Homo sapiens: one gene and its partner. The protein of the gene in region 1 binds, or shares a complex with, the protein of each later gene. Each region holds a gene or a part of one and is shown on either strand. Other genes may lie near its edges.

The links. The genes of interacting proteins can lie anywhere in the genome.
Region 2: THAP1 (region 1) and OGT share a complex: the UniProt entries of both Homo sapiens proteins name them as parts of the THAP1/THAP3-HCFC1-OGT complex.

Annotation. Positions count from the first base shown.
Region 1 is NC_000008.11:42,839,665-42,847,667, forward strand, and holds the start of THAP1 (THAP domain-containing protein 1), read right to left. Parts: upstream 3,662-8,003; 5' UTR 3,431-3,661; coding exon 3,360-3,430; exon of another isoform or gene 3,270-3,359; intron 1-3,269. UniProt on the Homo sapiens protein: DNA-binding transcription regulator that regulates endothelial cell proliferation and G1/S cell-cycle progression.
Region 2 is NC_000023.11:71,549,558-71,557,103, reverse strand, and holds part of OGT (UDP-N-acetylglucosamine--peptide N-acetylglucosaminyltransferase 110 kDa subunit), read right to left. Parts: intron 2,592-7,546; coding exon 2,512-2,591; intron 1,915-2,511; coding exon 1,719-1,914; intron 1,151-1,718; coding exon 1,010-1,150; intron 425-1,009; coding exon 324-424; intron 153-323; coding exon 1-152. UniProt on the Homo sapiens protein: Catalyzes the transfer of a single N-acetylglucosamine from UDP-GlcNAc to a serine or threonine residue in cytoplasmic and nuclear proteins resulting in their modification with a beta-linked N-acetylglucosamine (O-GlcNAc).

The DNA.
Region 1 (8,003 bases):
AGCCTCCCAAGTAGCTGGGACTCAGGCGTGCGCCACCACGCCCAGCTAAGTTTTGTACTTTTAGTAGAGATGGGCTTTCACCATGTTGGCCAGGATGGATTCGATTTCTTGACCTTGTGATCTGCCCGCCTTGGCCTCCCAAAGTGCTCGAATTACATGCGTGAGCCACTGTGCCTGGCCCTCATTCATTAACGTTTAACTTTTTATACTGAGTTCACCAAAAGATTCAGGTAAAATACATACTATAGAGTAAATGTGCCCACGGCTCATGCCTGTAATCCCAGCACTTGGGAGGCCACTGTCCGAGGGACTACTTAAGTCCAAGAGTTCGAGACTAGCCTGGGCAACACGGCAAAACCCTGTCTCTACAAAAGACACAAAAATTAGCTGGGCATGGTGGTATGTGCCCAGGTACTCAGGAGGCTGAGACTGAGGTGGAAGGACTGCTCGAGCCTGGGAGGTCAAGGCTGCGGTGAGCTGAGATCATTCCACTGCACTCCAGCCTGGGTGACAGAGCCATACCGTCTCAAAAAGAAAAAAATAACCTGTATTCATATTTTTTACCAGTAATTTTCTGTGTGCTGCACAGAGAGACAAAGATTGCACATTTGTATCTGCGTACTGGGAAAAAGGGGCTTCTAGTTCTCTTAGCATCAGTCTGACAAATATGAATAGGCTAAATTTGAATTAAAGGCAGATAATAACGAAAGAATTTATTTTCTAATCAACTGGGATGTCCATTAGGCCCAGGTAAACGGGGATAGTGAGAGTTTACATTTATTGTGGTAATTTTACTCTTCCAAGTTAAGAATTTGGTAAACTGGGGGGATTAGAAAGAAAAAGGGAAGGGAATTTCAAATTTATGTTTCACAGTCTCTCTTCCATGTACGATATGCTAGAGCCTGACTCTGCTAGTAAGAGATCTTTATGACAGTCCCTTTTCTTTGTACGACATAGCACTCTCCGCTGCCACTATGTAGAGGGTGGGAGAAGTGGTACTCCTAGAAAATCTCAGCTGGGGCTGGGCATGGCCTGTAATCAGGCCTGTAATCCCAGCACTTTGGGAGGCTGAGGAGGGCGGATCAGGAGGTCGAAGTATGGAGACCATCCTGGCCAACATGGTGAAACCCTGTCTCTACTAAAAATACAAAAATTAGCTGGGCGTGGTGGTGCACACCTGTAGTCCCAGCTACTTGGGAGGCTGAGGCAGGAGAATCACTTGAACTCGGGAGGCAGAGGTTGCACTGAGCTGAGATCGTGCCACTGCACTCTAGCCTGGTGACAGAGCAAGACTCCATCTCAAAAAAAAAAAAAAAAAAAAAAGAAAGAAAATCTCAACTGGAACGGCCTCTATAAGTATAAACTAGGGTAGCATTTGCTGGTAAAATTCAGTACCTATGGCCTCCTGGCTCTGTAAGTATAAACTATGGTAGCATTTGCTGGTAAAATTCAGTACCTAGGGCCTCCTGGCTCAAGGACAACAAATTTACAGCTGTTTGTGAGATTCTCTTAAGATCTTTCCCATCTACTCTCCCTAAACCTGCTATTTTAGATAAGGGATAAGATGCAGGTTAGCCCTTCTTTTGATTCAATCCATATCTGCTTAACATCTAGCAGAAACAGTTGTATCTTTTTTTTTTTTTTTTTTTTTTTTTGAGATGGAGTCTCACTCTGTTACCCAAGCTGGAGTGCAGGGCAAGATCTCAGCTCACTGCAACCTCCATATCCCAGGTTCAAGTGATTCCCCTACCTCAGCCTCCCAAGTAGCTAAGATTACAGGCGTACGCCTGTATTTTGTATTTTTAGTAGAGACGGGATTTTGCCATGTTGGCCAGGCTGGTCTCGAACTCCTGACGTCAGGTGATCCGCCCACCTTGGCCTCCCCAAGTGCTGGGAATTACAGGCATGAGCCATCGTGCCTCGACAAAAACAGTTATTTCCGACGTGTGAATACCCTCTTTAAACTAGTTTCCAGTGCCAATGAAACATTTTCCATAATTTTAGATTCCTTCTGCCAAGCCATCAGAAATGTGGGTGGGGAGCTGGGCATGTAATCCTGTTACCATCACCTGACCTTTCCCTACATTTAGAAAGAACATGTTTACAGAAATTCCAATTAAATCAAGAGATAATATTAGGATATCCTGAACTGAATCCTCTAAGTGTTCTATCCCCTTCTCCAAGGGGTAACATTATTACTCTGGAGACCTCTCTATGTTCTACACACTCTTATTTCTATAGGGTCCATCTCACATGATATCAAACATATTTAAAAAATGCATGGACACTCCCCTAGTAAACACAGATGGCCCCACAGCAAAAAAATAAATTAACTGAAAAGATATTTAACATTTTGCTTTTGTAATTATTTACCTAATTATAAAAGATAATTAGCTAATTACCTATGGCTAATCTGTATAGTTTACCCCTGGATCTGATTTCTTACCTATCATCTGCGTATAGCTGTCAGGAATTCTTGCAAAGAAAACTTAACATAAATGTAATTAAAATTTGTAAACAAATTCAGCTGAATGAAAATGTTATGTCACATTTTACAAGCGTTTATCATAAGTAATTACAACTCTGCACTTTTTTCCTATTTTCAAGAGAATATTTTTGATCCTATCACTTAACTGTGCTACCTACTGGATAAGACAGCTCTGAAAGCTGTGGGGCAGTTTCTTTCGAAAGAGCTTTCTCTATGCACAGGTAATGCCATAATAAATAAAGATCCGTGTGAGTCATTTTATTATGATCCATGTTGTAACTGTCCATATTATCATTATTGTGTGCTGAAAAGATAACGATTTATCTCGGCAGTACCTGAAGCTTTCTCCAAAATACAGGGTCCTTAAAGCTTAGTTCCTAGAGATTGGGGGCAAAAATTCTCCCTGATTTCCCAGCCAAAAAACCCTTAATTGCTACGATGCTGGCCTCCCATCCACGGCAAGGGCGAAAAGTAGTGATTTCTTCGTTTAAAGGCCTTTGTTTCTATTTTAAATTTACCCCTAAGACCATATTAAAACACCTGGCTGCTCTGTGACCCTGGTGGTGGCAAAACCCGCGCCACCCTAGGCATCGCCCGTGGGCTCCGAACGCGTCAACCCAGGCCGTGAGCGAAGCCTGCAACCAGGGCCTGTTCCAGGAGCGCGAGAAACGGCTGCCGCGGCGACGCGCGCCGAGAACGCGCGATCGGGCGGCGGTTCCCAGCGGGACGCGGTGGGAAACGCCCGACACGGCCGGCCCCAGACCCCACCCGCCCCTCGCGCGGACACGCGCCTGGCTCCGCCCCCGGCCCCGCCGGCCGCGCGCCCCCACCCCGGCTGAGACCGGCCCCGCGAGGCGCGCAGGGTCCTCACTTGTGGAAAGAAACGGGCTTGTCCTTGTCGTAGCGGTTCTTGCAGCCGTAGGCGGAGCAGGACTGCACCATCCTTCCGGTCCTCAGGCACTTCACTTCTGCCGCCGCAGAAGGCAGGGGAAGCTGTTCTCAGTGTCGCTGCGCTCGGTTGGATTCCCTCGCTTCTTTTGTAGCTTTGGCCAACAGTTACAGTGATGGTGGCCTCCCTCGGGGGTGACTAGTGTGCCCGTTTTGTTGTTTGCATTAGCAGAAGGACCACAGCCATCGCCCGTCTCCCATCTCCAAGATGGCGGAGGCAGCTTCAACCTCACCTCTCGCGAGGGGTGCGTCCCACTGTCTCTGATTAGCCCCGAGGTCAGAGGTAACGTTTCCTGGGAAGCTAACTATTGGCTGAGGCCAGGTGTTTCCGGCGGTGGCTTCAGAGTTGCCGAAGTGGGCGGAGCCCTGAGCTTCCGGCAGGCAGGAAGGAACTGCTTGTGGGGGGAGGAGGCGCGGCGGGAGGCCGGATTCCTGGGGCATCCTCCAGCCCCGGGCTGTTCCCGTGGGTTAATTGATGCGGACCTTTTCTGGGGCAGCTTACAGTAGGGAACAACTAGGGCCTCTTGGAGAACAGGTGTAAAGCCGAGGTCGTTGGCTGATTGCGCCCATTTCTTTAAAAGGGCGGACACAGATGGTGTATGATTAATAAAATTGTGGAACCTTTTCCCAGAGTGCTAATCTTTATCCCATTACCTGTGTCTTCAGGTATCACAAGTTTCTGTGAGAGCCAACGTGACAGATTTTTAGCAATGAAAAAAGACACACTCGCCAAATCATCTCAATTGCCAACGCAGAAGCGTTTTATATATATGTATGTATATGTATGTATATATGTGTGTATGTATATATGTGTGTGTGTATGTATATATATATATATATATGTAATTTTTTAAATAAATAGAGGCGTTGTCTCCCCACGTTGCCCAGGTCAGTCTGGAACTCGAGCTCAAGGGATCCTCCCATCTCGACCTCCCCATGGGTTGGGATTACAGGAGTTGAGCCACCAGGCTGTCCCTCCCCAGAAGCTTTTCTGAAGGCTCTCCATTGCTGTGATTTCCATGTGCTGTGTTGCAAATAGCGAACTGCTGCAGCAATTTTCACACCTGAGAGAGAATATGTTAGAGGGGTTCGAACTAGAGCGACTCTGTGTTGAGTGAGGGCTAGGAAAATGAGGCTGGGACTTGCTGGGCTGCATTCCCGGGAAGTTAGGTATTCCTAGCCTCTAGATGTGTATACCATTAAGGCAACAGATTGATAATGTTTACTACACAGACCCAGACTACCAAGTGTCCAGATATCCCGATATTTTGAGAACAGAAGCATTCCTAATTTTGCTTTAAAGATAATAATATTGGGCTGGGCACAGTGCCTCACGCCTGTAATCCCAGCACTTTGGAAGGCCGAGGCGGGCGGATCACTTGAGGTCAGGAGTTCAAGACTAGCCTGGTCAACATGGTGAAAACGTCTCTACTAAAAATACAAAAATTAACCGGGTGTGGTGGCACATGCCCTCGAATTTCAGCTACTCTGGAGGCTGAGGCAGGATAATCGCTTGAATCCGGGAGGCGGGGGTTGCAGTGAGCCGTGCTTGCACCACTGCACTCCAGCCTGGGCGACAGAGTAAGACTCTGTCTCATAAATAAAGATAATATCGATTCTTACATAATATAGTAATTAATCCTTTATCACAAACCCTTGTAGCAAAGCACATCTCCCCATGATCTTTTTTTATCCTATATATAAACTAAGTGTTGTACTTAGGGTGGACGCGTTCCTCCTCTTACTTTCGGGAATGCCCTACTCTGTCTGTGGAGTAGCTGTACTTTCACCACTTTACGTTCTTAATAAACTTGCTTTTGCTTTGTACTGTGGACTTGCCCTGAATTCTGTCTTGCGTGAGATCCAAGAACCCTGTCTTGGGGTCTGGATTGGGACCCCTTTCCTGTAACAGTTTTACTTCATTCCCTGCTCCTTTTCTTTATATAGATCTGAGCCAGGCAGACCTGGAGAGCGGACTGTTGAGTAATCCCTTGGCCCTTATTCTCTACCTTTCCTGCCCTTTTAAATGTTGCTGTTTCCCCAGGGTTCCATCTTCTGCCCTCCTCTAACTCCTAAACACCCTGCTCCTTAAACTGAACCAAATACCATAATTCTCTCATCTTTTATTTCCTTTGTATATCCGTTCTGCCTTTGGGATTATCATCTGTGAATTATCATCTGTGAATTATCTGTTCAACAGTTGTCTAAACCAGAAACCTTGGAGTCATCTTGGATTTTTTTTGTCACCCATAAAACCCGTTGATGACCAGGTTAATTTTGTAGACTAAATAAATAAATGCCCCTTAAATCCATCCCTCTTCATGTCTCCTCACTGTTGTTGTTGTTTTTTTTTTTGTTTTTTTTTTTGAGAGGGAGTCTCACTCTGTCGCTCAGTCTGGAGTGCAGTGGCACAATCTCAGTTCACTGCAACCTCCGCCTCCTGGGTTCAAGCGATTATCCCGCCTCAGCCTCCTAAGTAGCTGGGATTACAGGCACCCGCCACCATGCCTGGCTAATTTTTGTATTTTTGTAGAGATGGGGTTTCACCATGTTGGCCAGGCTGGACTCGAACTCCTGACCTCAGGTGATACGCCTGCCTCGGCCTCCCAAAGTGTTGGGATTACAGGCGTGAGCCACTGCGCCCAACCCTCACTGTTCTTTAATTATTTTTATTATTATATTTAACAGAGATGAGGTCTCACTGTGTTGCCCAGGCTGGTCTCAAACTCCTGGGTTTAAGCTATCTGTCAGCCAGGGCCTCCCAAAGTCCTGGGACTACAGGCGTGAGCCACGGCACCTGGCCTCCTCACTGTTCTTGACCAAGCTCTCATGGTCTTAACCTTGCAGCAACCCCTTAACTATCCTAGTCTCCAGTTTTACCTCTCTCCATTCTATCTTCTATAGAAGGGTGGTGCATGCCTGCCACGCCCTTGCTCATATCCTTCCAAGGCTACCTGCTGTACTGAATAAAATCCAAACTTCTTATGGTGAATTATAAAGCTCTTTAAGACCAAGTACTTCTACTCTTCCACCATCATCTCCCTCCACTTGTCTTTACCTTTGTTCCGGCTTTATGTCTTAGAGGGTAGGCTCTTTTGTGGTTTCTTTAAATAGGCTGTTTTCCTTGGCTTGAAATGCCCATCCCTGACCTGTCCACCCTTAAGATGTGGCTTAATGGCCTGGTGCAGTGGCTCACGCCTGTAATCCCAGCACTTTGGGAGGCTGAGGCGGGTGGATCACATGAGCCCAGGTGTTCAAGGCCAGCCTGGGCAACATAGTGAGACCCTGTCTCTACAAAAAAAATACAAAAATTAGCCAGGCATGTTGGCACACACCTGTAGTCCCAGATACTTGGGAGGCTGAGTTGAGAGGATTCCTTGAACCCAGAAGGTTGAGGCTGCAGTGAGCTGTGGTCATGCCTTTGTACTCCAGCCTGAGCAAACAGAATGAGACCCTGTCTCAAACAAGCAAACCAACAGTTACCATGAGCTGGGTGTCAGGGCTCAGGAGGCTGAGGCAGGGACTCAAGGCAGCCTGGACAGCAGAGTGAGACCCTGTTTCTAAAAAGTTGTTTTTAATTGGTCAGGTATGGTGGTGCATGCCTGTAGTTCCAGCTACTTGGGAGGCTGAGGCAAGGAGGATCCCTTGAGTCCAGGAGTCTGAGGCTGCTGGAGTGTGAGCTATGATCATGACAGTGAGATCCCATCTCTAAATTTTATACACATACACATACACACACAGATATGTATTGCTAAAAAAAAAAGCTAATGATCACCTGAGCCTTCAGCAAATGGTGATCTTTTTGTTGATGGAGAGTCTTGCCTTGATGTTGATGGCTGCTGACTGATCATGGTTGCTGAAGGTTGAGGTGGCTGTGGCAAGTTCTTAAAATGAGACAACAATGAAGTTTGCTGCATCGATTGACTCTTCCTTTCATTAAATATTTCTCTGTAGCAAGTAATGCTGTTTAATAGCATTTTGGTCACAGTAGAACTTCTTTAAGAATTGGAGTTAATCCTCTCAAACCCTGCCACTGCTTTATCAACTAGGTTTATTTAATATTCAAAATATTCTAAATCCGTTGTTGTCATTTCAACAATGTTCACAGCATCTTTGCCAGAAGTAGATTCCATCTTCATAAACTACTTTATTTGCTCATCTATAAGAAGCAACTCCTCATCTGTTCAAGTTTTATCATGAAATTGCAGCAACTCAGTCACATCTTCAGGATCCACTTTTAATTCTAGTTCTCTTGTTGTTTCTATCACACTTGCAGTGACTTCTTCCACCAAAGTCTTGAACAACTCAAAGCCATTCATGAGGGCTGGAGTCAATTTCTGCCAAACTCCTGTTAATGTTGATATTTTTCCTCCCATGAATTATTGATGTTCTTCAGGGCATCTAGAATGATGAATCCTTTCCAGAAGGTTTTCTACTGACTTTGCCCAGATCCATCAGAGGAGTCACTATCTATGGCAGCTATAGGCTTACAAAATTTATTTCATAGGTAATAAAACTTGGAAGTCAAAATACTCCTTGATTTATGGGGCTGCAGAATGGATGTTGT
Region 2 (7,546 bases), on another chromosome or scaffold:
TATGAATGGAAGCCAGATTGCTATGTGCATCTGCAAATGCAGGATTAATTTGGATGGCACGCGTATAACACTGCAAGGCTCCCTGAACATCCTGCATCTCCTTTAGAGTGTTTCCCATATTAGAGTAGGCATCAGCAAAGGTAGGACTGATTCTAAAAGAGAAGCCAAAGGTTTTATTTCTCCAATACAAAAATCTTTAACCCACTGTAATGCTAACTTATTCCGTTGTTATTTAAAGCCATTTTAGCATCTGCAATGTGCCGAATGTCAAACATTTTAAAATTAAAAATAATTTTAAAAATAAGGCTGTTAGTGTCTCTTACCGAATAGCCTCCTTATAATGCATCAGAGCTTCCTGCAGTTTTCCCTGCTGCTGCAGTACACTTGCTAAATTTGAATGGGCAGCAGCAAACTCTGGGAAGACCTATAAAGAGTCAAGATCAGAACTGAGGTTAAAAAAATTGCTAAAGCAGCAGTAATAATTCACCACAACCTTAAGAACTTTGCTCAAGTACATTTAAACCCCTAAATTTGTCTCTACTTTTTCCAAGTCTATTCATTCTCAAATTCTACCTCTTCCTCTATTTTATACCTCTTCTTGTTTCAAACATAATGAGGTACACCTCTTCTCCTCTTAGTTTATCCTGACCACTCCAACACCACTGAAATCTCTCTCTGCTAAACTCCTACCACATCTACTAACCACTACCATACAGCCATCAGGCACTAAGATTATATACTTATAAGTAACTTCTCTTGAACTGTGGGTTAATGTTTAATTTTTTTGTACAGATCTTATCCACAGAATAATGAACTCTGAATGCAGGGATTTTCTGGAATGTCACATAGGGCCTCACATCATACCTTAGGTACTCAATTGTTACTTCAATGAATAATCCTCTTGTAAATGATTCAACCACTATTTTTACAAAAGAGGTGGATGATGGTAAACTTAACTGCTTTCCCTCTACTATCATGCTAAATGCCCAGCTACACCACCCTCACATACTTCTAATGCTTTACGATACAAGCGAACTGCCTCTTCAATGTTTCCCTGTTCTCGTTTGATATTGGCTAGGTTATTCAGAGAGTCTGCATGGGTGGGACACAGACGGAGAGCTGTATTATAACAATCTTCTGCTTCAGCAACCTAGAAAACAAAACAAAGTCTTCAAAAACTGTACAGAATCATAAAGCCTCCACTGATACTGTTCTAATAATTGTTTAATTAAGCCTAATGGCTGGTAATGCTACAGAAAATTGATATTTTTTGGTATTCTTACCCTCAACCAAAACTCTAAAGTAAACCAATATACCATCTCAATACTTGTACAAAAGACTTTCCTTTTTTGCTGTTTTTTGGTTTTTGTGATTTTTTTGAGACAGAGTCTCGTGCTCTGTTGCCCAGGCTGGAGTGCTGTGGCACAATCATGGCCCACTGCAGCCTCAACCTCCCAGGACTCAATCGATCCTCCCACCTCGGCCTCCCAAGGAGCTGGGACTACAGGTGTGTGCCACCATGCCCGGCTAATTTTTGTATTTCTTGTAGAGACAGGGTTTCGTCATGTTGCCTAGGCTGGTCTCGAAACCCTAAGCTCAAGCAATCCTCTGATCTCGGCCTCCCGAAGTGCTGGCATTACAAGTGTGAGCCACCACACCTGGCCAGAAAAGACTCTTAATCCTACCAGATAACAAATAGAATGAGTAAAAATCCTTACACTGCCCTTCTCTTTGAGAGCATTGGCTAGGTTGCAGTAAGCATCAGGGAAATGTGGTTGTAGTTCGATAGCCCGCCTGTAGGTGTCTATTGCCAGATCTATCAGGCCTTGCTCATAGTATACACAAGCCAGGTTGCCGTGCACCACTGCGTGATTTGGACTCAAACTTAGGGCACGAAGATAAGCTGCCACAGCTCTGTAAATAAACACACACACACACACACACACACACACACACACACACACACACAAAATGTAACTCATGCTTAATGGATGGTTTGTTACAACTCATTCAAGCTGTACTATATCAAAATATATCAAGTAATTGTAATTAATTACATAATTCATGCTGTATTATATTTTAACCTCAAACCAAAATCACACCTTTATAAAATGTGTCTTTACACTGGGAAGTTTTCTACTCCCACATAAAAAATAGGCTTTCCTTTGACAACAACAAAAAATTTAAAAGTCTGGATTTACTTTGCTTTCTAAAATCAGGTCAAAGGAATAATTTAGTCTAAGAAAGAATCATTTCAACCATTTTAACAATAAAAAAATTTCAACTAAACTCCCAATGAGAAGGATAACGGCTTTGAGGAAAGCCAACAACAAAAAGTCAGGCAACGAACAACATCTATAAATAAAAGGCAACACAGGACATGGGCAGAGAACAACGTGCTAGAAAAGGCAAATATGCTTCAATGGACTATTGTCATCATTTCGGTCCAAACTGTCAAGTGTCAATACAACAAAGATTCAAGAAAATTTATTAAACAGAACATTCTCTCACCTGTCAAAAATGCGTGCCTCTTTCAAGACATTTCCTAAATTGATATAAGCATCCAGAAAGTTTGGGTCAAGGGTGACAGCCTAAAAATTTCAAGACAGTTAGTTACTCAGAGCAAGTTAGGATTTCACCAGATCAACTTCCCAATTACAATTTTTTTACTCCAAGGTCCTTGCAGACTTTCAATTACATTTCATTTTAATAAACCAATTATTTATTTAGTGTCTTCTCATTATTTTTACAAACCTCAACATTATCAAAATAACTTCTCATGCCTCATGTTCTCATGAGCAAAATGGGTCCTGAAGAGAAAAATTAAATATTGGGCCTGCTCCAATTTCATTAAACTGAACACTTCTAATGATTGGCCCTATTTTATTCACAATTAACCAGTCTAACTCTTCTGAAAAATAGTGGCAAAAGAGGCAGCAAACTCTTACTGAAAAGGTAAATATATACCTCAGTTGTATGCATACAAACTACATGCTCAGCAAGACCTTATTAAGACATGCAATTAGAGCTGTATACACAGTAAGATACAATACTTCAAGGAAATACTAACCATTACACGGTGTCATCCAAATAGCTGTCATGTTGTCTAGAGCAGTGATTCTCAACCTTGGCAATATATTAAGAATTTACCTCCTAGAAAAGGTACCGAGGCTCTATCACAGGCCAGTTAAATCAGACCCTCTGAAGATAGGGTCAGGATATTCAGATCTTTTATAAGCTCCTCATGTATAACCAAGGAAGAGAAACACTGATCAAGAAAGATACTCCTACAGCATGGTAAATGCAAACTTCAATCAAAACACCGGCCAGGTGCAGTGGCTCACACATGTAATCCCAGTACTTTGGGAGGCCGAGGTCGGACCACTTGAGGTCAGGAGTTCAAGACCAGCCTGGCCAACATGGTGAAACCCCATCTCTACTAAAAATACAAAAATTACCTGGGCATGGTGATGTGCAACTGTAGTCCCAGCTACTCGAGAGGCTGAGGCATGAGAATGGCTTGAACCCGAGAGGCAGAGGTTACAGTGAGCCAAGATTGCGCCACTGCACTCCAGCCTGGGCAACAGAGCAAGACTGTGTCTCCAAAAACAAAAAACAAAAACAAAAAAAAACACACACACCGAAAAGGTATTTGATTAAGACACTGAGTAATTGTATGTTTATTAAAGACTGATAAAGAACACTTCATCTGCTGGGCGCGGTGGCTCATGCCTGTAATCCCAGCACTTTGGGAGGCCAAGGCGGGCAGATCACTTGAGGCCCGGAGTTCAAGACCACCCTGGCCAACATGGCGAAACCCCGTCTCTACTAAAAAATACAAAAAATTAGCCGGGCATGGTGGCTCACGCCTGTAATCCCAGCTACTCAGGAGGCCGAGGCAGGAGAATTGCTTGAACCTGGGAGGCGGAAGCTGCAGTGAGCTGAGATCGTGCCACTGCACTCCAGCCTGGGCGACAGAGCGAGACTCTGTCTCAAAAAAAAATAAAGAAAGAACACTTCATCTTCACTTAGATGACAACTCTGTAGTAAACACGGCATGATGCATTTAATTTAGATTGTCTATAGTGATAGATGTCCACCCCAAGAACTTTTAAACTTTATAATAGAAATGTTTAAACATATACAAAAGCAGAGGAACATTACGTCCAAGTCTCCATTATCCATTTTCAACAATTCATATATCATGTTTGATCTTATTTAATCTATACTCCAACTTACTCCCCCTCTTCGCAGATCATTTTGAAGCAAAGCCCAGACATATTCCATTCAAAAATACTTCAATATGTATCTCAGGGACAACACAAGAATGCTTTTTCCTCCCAACCTAACCACAATACCATTATCATACCTAACAGAAAAAAAAAAAAAAAAGACAGCAATTCCTTCATATTAAATATCAGCTGGGCGTGGTGGCTCATGCCTGTAATCCTAGCACTTTGAGAGGCCGAGGCAGGCAGACTGCCTGAGCTCAGGAGTTCAAGACCTGGGAACATGGCAAAGCCCTGTCTCCACTAAAAATACAAAAAGCTAGCCGGGCATGATGGCGCACGCCTGTAGTCCCACCTACTCCGGAGGCTGAGGCAAGTGAATCCCTTGAGCCTGGGAGGTGAAGGTTGCAGTGAGCCAAGATCACACCACTGCACTTCAGCCTGGGCGATCAAGTGAGACCCTGTCTCAAAAAAAAAAAAAAAAAAATCCATTCAGTGCTCCAATTTCTCATTAACTGAGTCAGGATCCAAATAAGACAGATATAATTTGTCAATGTGCCTCTCTGAGTTTCTTTTAATCCTTTAAAAGTTTGTGTGTTTATTTATTTATTTTTGGAGACGGAGTGTCACTCATTATTTATTTTTGGAGACGGAGTGTCACTCACTCTGTCGCCCAGGCTGGAGTGCAGTGGCACGATCTTGGCTCACCGCAACCTCCTCCTCCTCCCGGGTTCAGGCAATTCTCCTGCCTCAGCCTCCTAAGTAGCTGGGATTACAGGCACACGCCACCGCACCGCACCCAGCTGTTTTTTTTTTCTTTTGTATTTTGAGTAGAGATGGGGTTGCACCATGTTGGCCAGGCTGGTCTCGAACTCCTGACCTCAAGTGATCCACTCGCCTCAGCCTCCCAAAGTGCTGAGATTACAGGGGTGAGCTACCGCACCCGGCCTAAAAGTTTAATTTAAATCTCCATTTTTATTACAATTTGTTGAAGTAAGAAGGTCAGCTTCCCAAAGTTTGAATTTTGCTGACTGCATCCCTATGGTGTCCTTTAACATGTTTCCTGTCCCGTGTATATCTCCTGTAAATTGGTAGGTAGAACCAGAAGCTTAATTAGGTTTGTGTTCTTTTCTCTTTGTGCAAGACTACTTCACTGGTGAAATTGTTTACCACAAGGTACTTAATACCTGATTGTATCTCGTTTTTGTCACTGATAAATGCTTTAACTTTTTTTTTATTTTTTGAGATGGAGTCTTGCTCTGTCGCCCAGGCTGGAATGCAATGGTGCAATCTCAGCTCACTGCAACCTCCACCTCCCAGGTTCAAGAGATTCTCCTGCCTCCGCCTCCTGAGTAGCTGGGATTACAGGCTCCTGCTACCATGCCTGGCTAATTTTTGTATTTTTAGTAGAGATGGGGTTTTGCCATGTTGGCCAGGCTGGTCTCGAACTCCTGACCTCAGGTGATCCACCTGCCATGGCCTCCCGAAGTGCTGGGATTACAGGCGTGAGCCACCAAGCCCGGCCTAATAAATGCTTTCACTATTAATGGTGATATTCTATCATTCCTTCTTCACTTATTAGCTAGAATGCTTTTATAAAGAAAAGCTTCCCCCATCAACTATTGGGTTACTCTATGGTCTAGTTCATACAGGAGAGGGAAGACATATGCTTTATTCTTTTAATTTTTAAATTTAAAGTTGATATATAATTGTGTATATTTATGGCATACAATGTGATGGTTTGATCCACGTATACATTTTAGAAAGAGTCAACCAAGCTAATTAACATAGCCATCACCTCACTAACTTATTTTTTTGTGGTTGAGGACATTAAAAACCTATTCTTTTTGCAATTTTGAAATATACATTATTAACAACTGTGGTCACCATGCAGTACTACAGATCACTAAAACTTATTCCTCCAGTCTAACTGAAACTTTGATCAATATCTCCCTTTTCCCCATCCCTCCTCCACCCCCCCAAGCCTCACCACCCTTCTACTCTCTGTTTCTATGAAATCAACTTTTTTAGATTCCACAAATAGGTGACATAATACAGTATCTACTTTCTGTGCCTGGTTTATTTCACTTAGCATAAAGCACAGATAACAAAAGCAAAAATATGCAATGAGATTGCATCAAACTAAAAAGCTTCTGCACAGTAAAGGAAACAATTACACAGAGTGAATAGGCAACCCCGGATTAGGAGAAAGCATTTGCAAACTATACAACTGATAAAGGGTTAAGAAGCTCAACTCAGTAGCAAATACGCCCATTAAAATACGGGCAAAGGATCTAAACAGACATTTCTCAAAAGAAGAGGTACAGGCCAGACACAGTGGCTCATGTCTGTAATCCTATCACTTGGGGAGACCAAGGTGGGAGGATCACTTGAGCCCAGGAGTTCGAGGTTGCAGTGAGCTATTATGGCGCCACTGCACTCCAGCCTGGGCAACAGAGCAGGACCTCATCTCAAAAAAACAAAACAAAACAAAACAAAAAAAACAAATGGCAAGCAGATATATAAAAAATATGCTCAACATCACTAATCATCAAGGAAATGCAAAATAAAACCATGAGTTAGCATCTCACACTTGTTAGTATAGCTATCATCAAAAGGACGAATAATAACAAGTGTTAGTGAGGATGTAAAGAAAGGGAAGCCTTGTAACTGATGGGGGAAGTATAAATTGGCACAGCCATTTTGGGAACTAGTATAGAGGTTCCTCAAAAACTTTATTCTTCTCTTTTTAACCAGTTTTCCAAATTAATTGTTCCTTGTAAGTCTTCCAAAGATGACCAATGAATTTTTTAGCATAATTATAAGCTCATAGATTTAAACATACTTGATAAGTTTTAGTATATTTCAGTTATTATTCCTATTGATGCTCAAGTCTGCATCTTTAGCCAGTGGGAGCCTCCTCAAGTTGCTTCCTGAGTCCTTTTGATGCAAAGTAATATGTCAAAGCTTCCTTGCTTTCTGGTATGACAAGACATTCCAAAAATTTTTTTTAAATTCCTGCCCCAGACCTGGAATCTGCCTTTTCACCAAGAAGCCCTGCTTCTTTAAAGCCCATTTATAAAAATCATTTTTAATTACTAAAGTACATTTTTTTTGAGACAGGGTCTCACACCATCACCCAGGCTGGAGTGCAGTTGCATGATCACAGCTCACTGCAGACTCAAACTCCCATCTCAGCCTCCCCAGTAGCTGTGTGTGTGTCACCACGCATAGCTACTTTTTGTATTTTTTGTAGAGACAGGGTCTTACTATGTTGCCCAGGCTGGTCTCAAACTACTAGGCTCAAGCAATCCTCC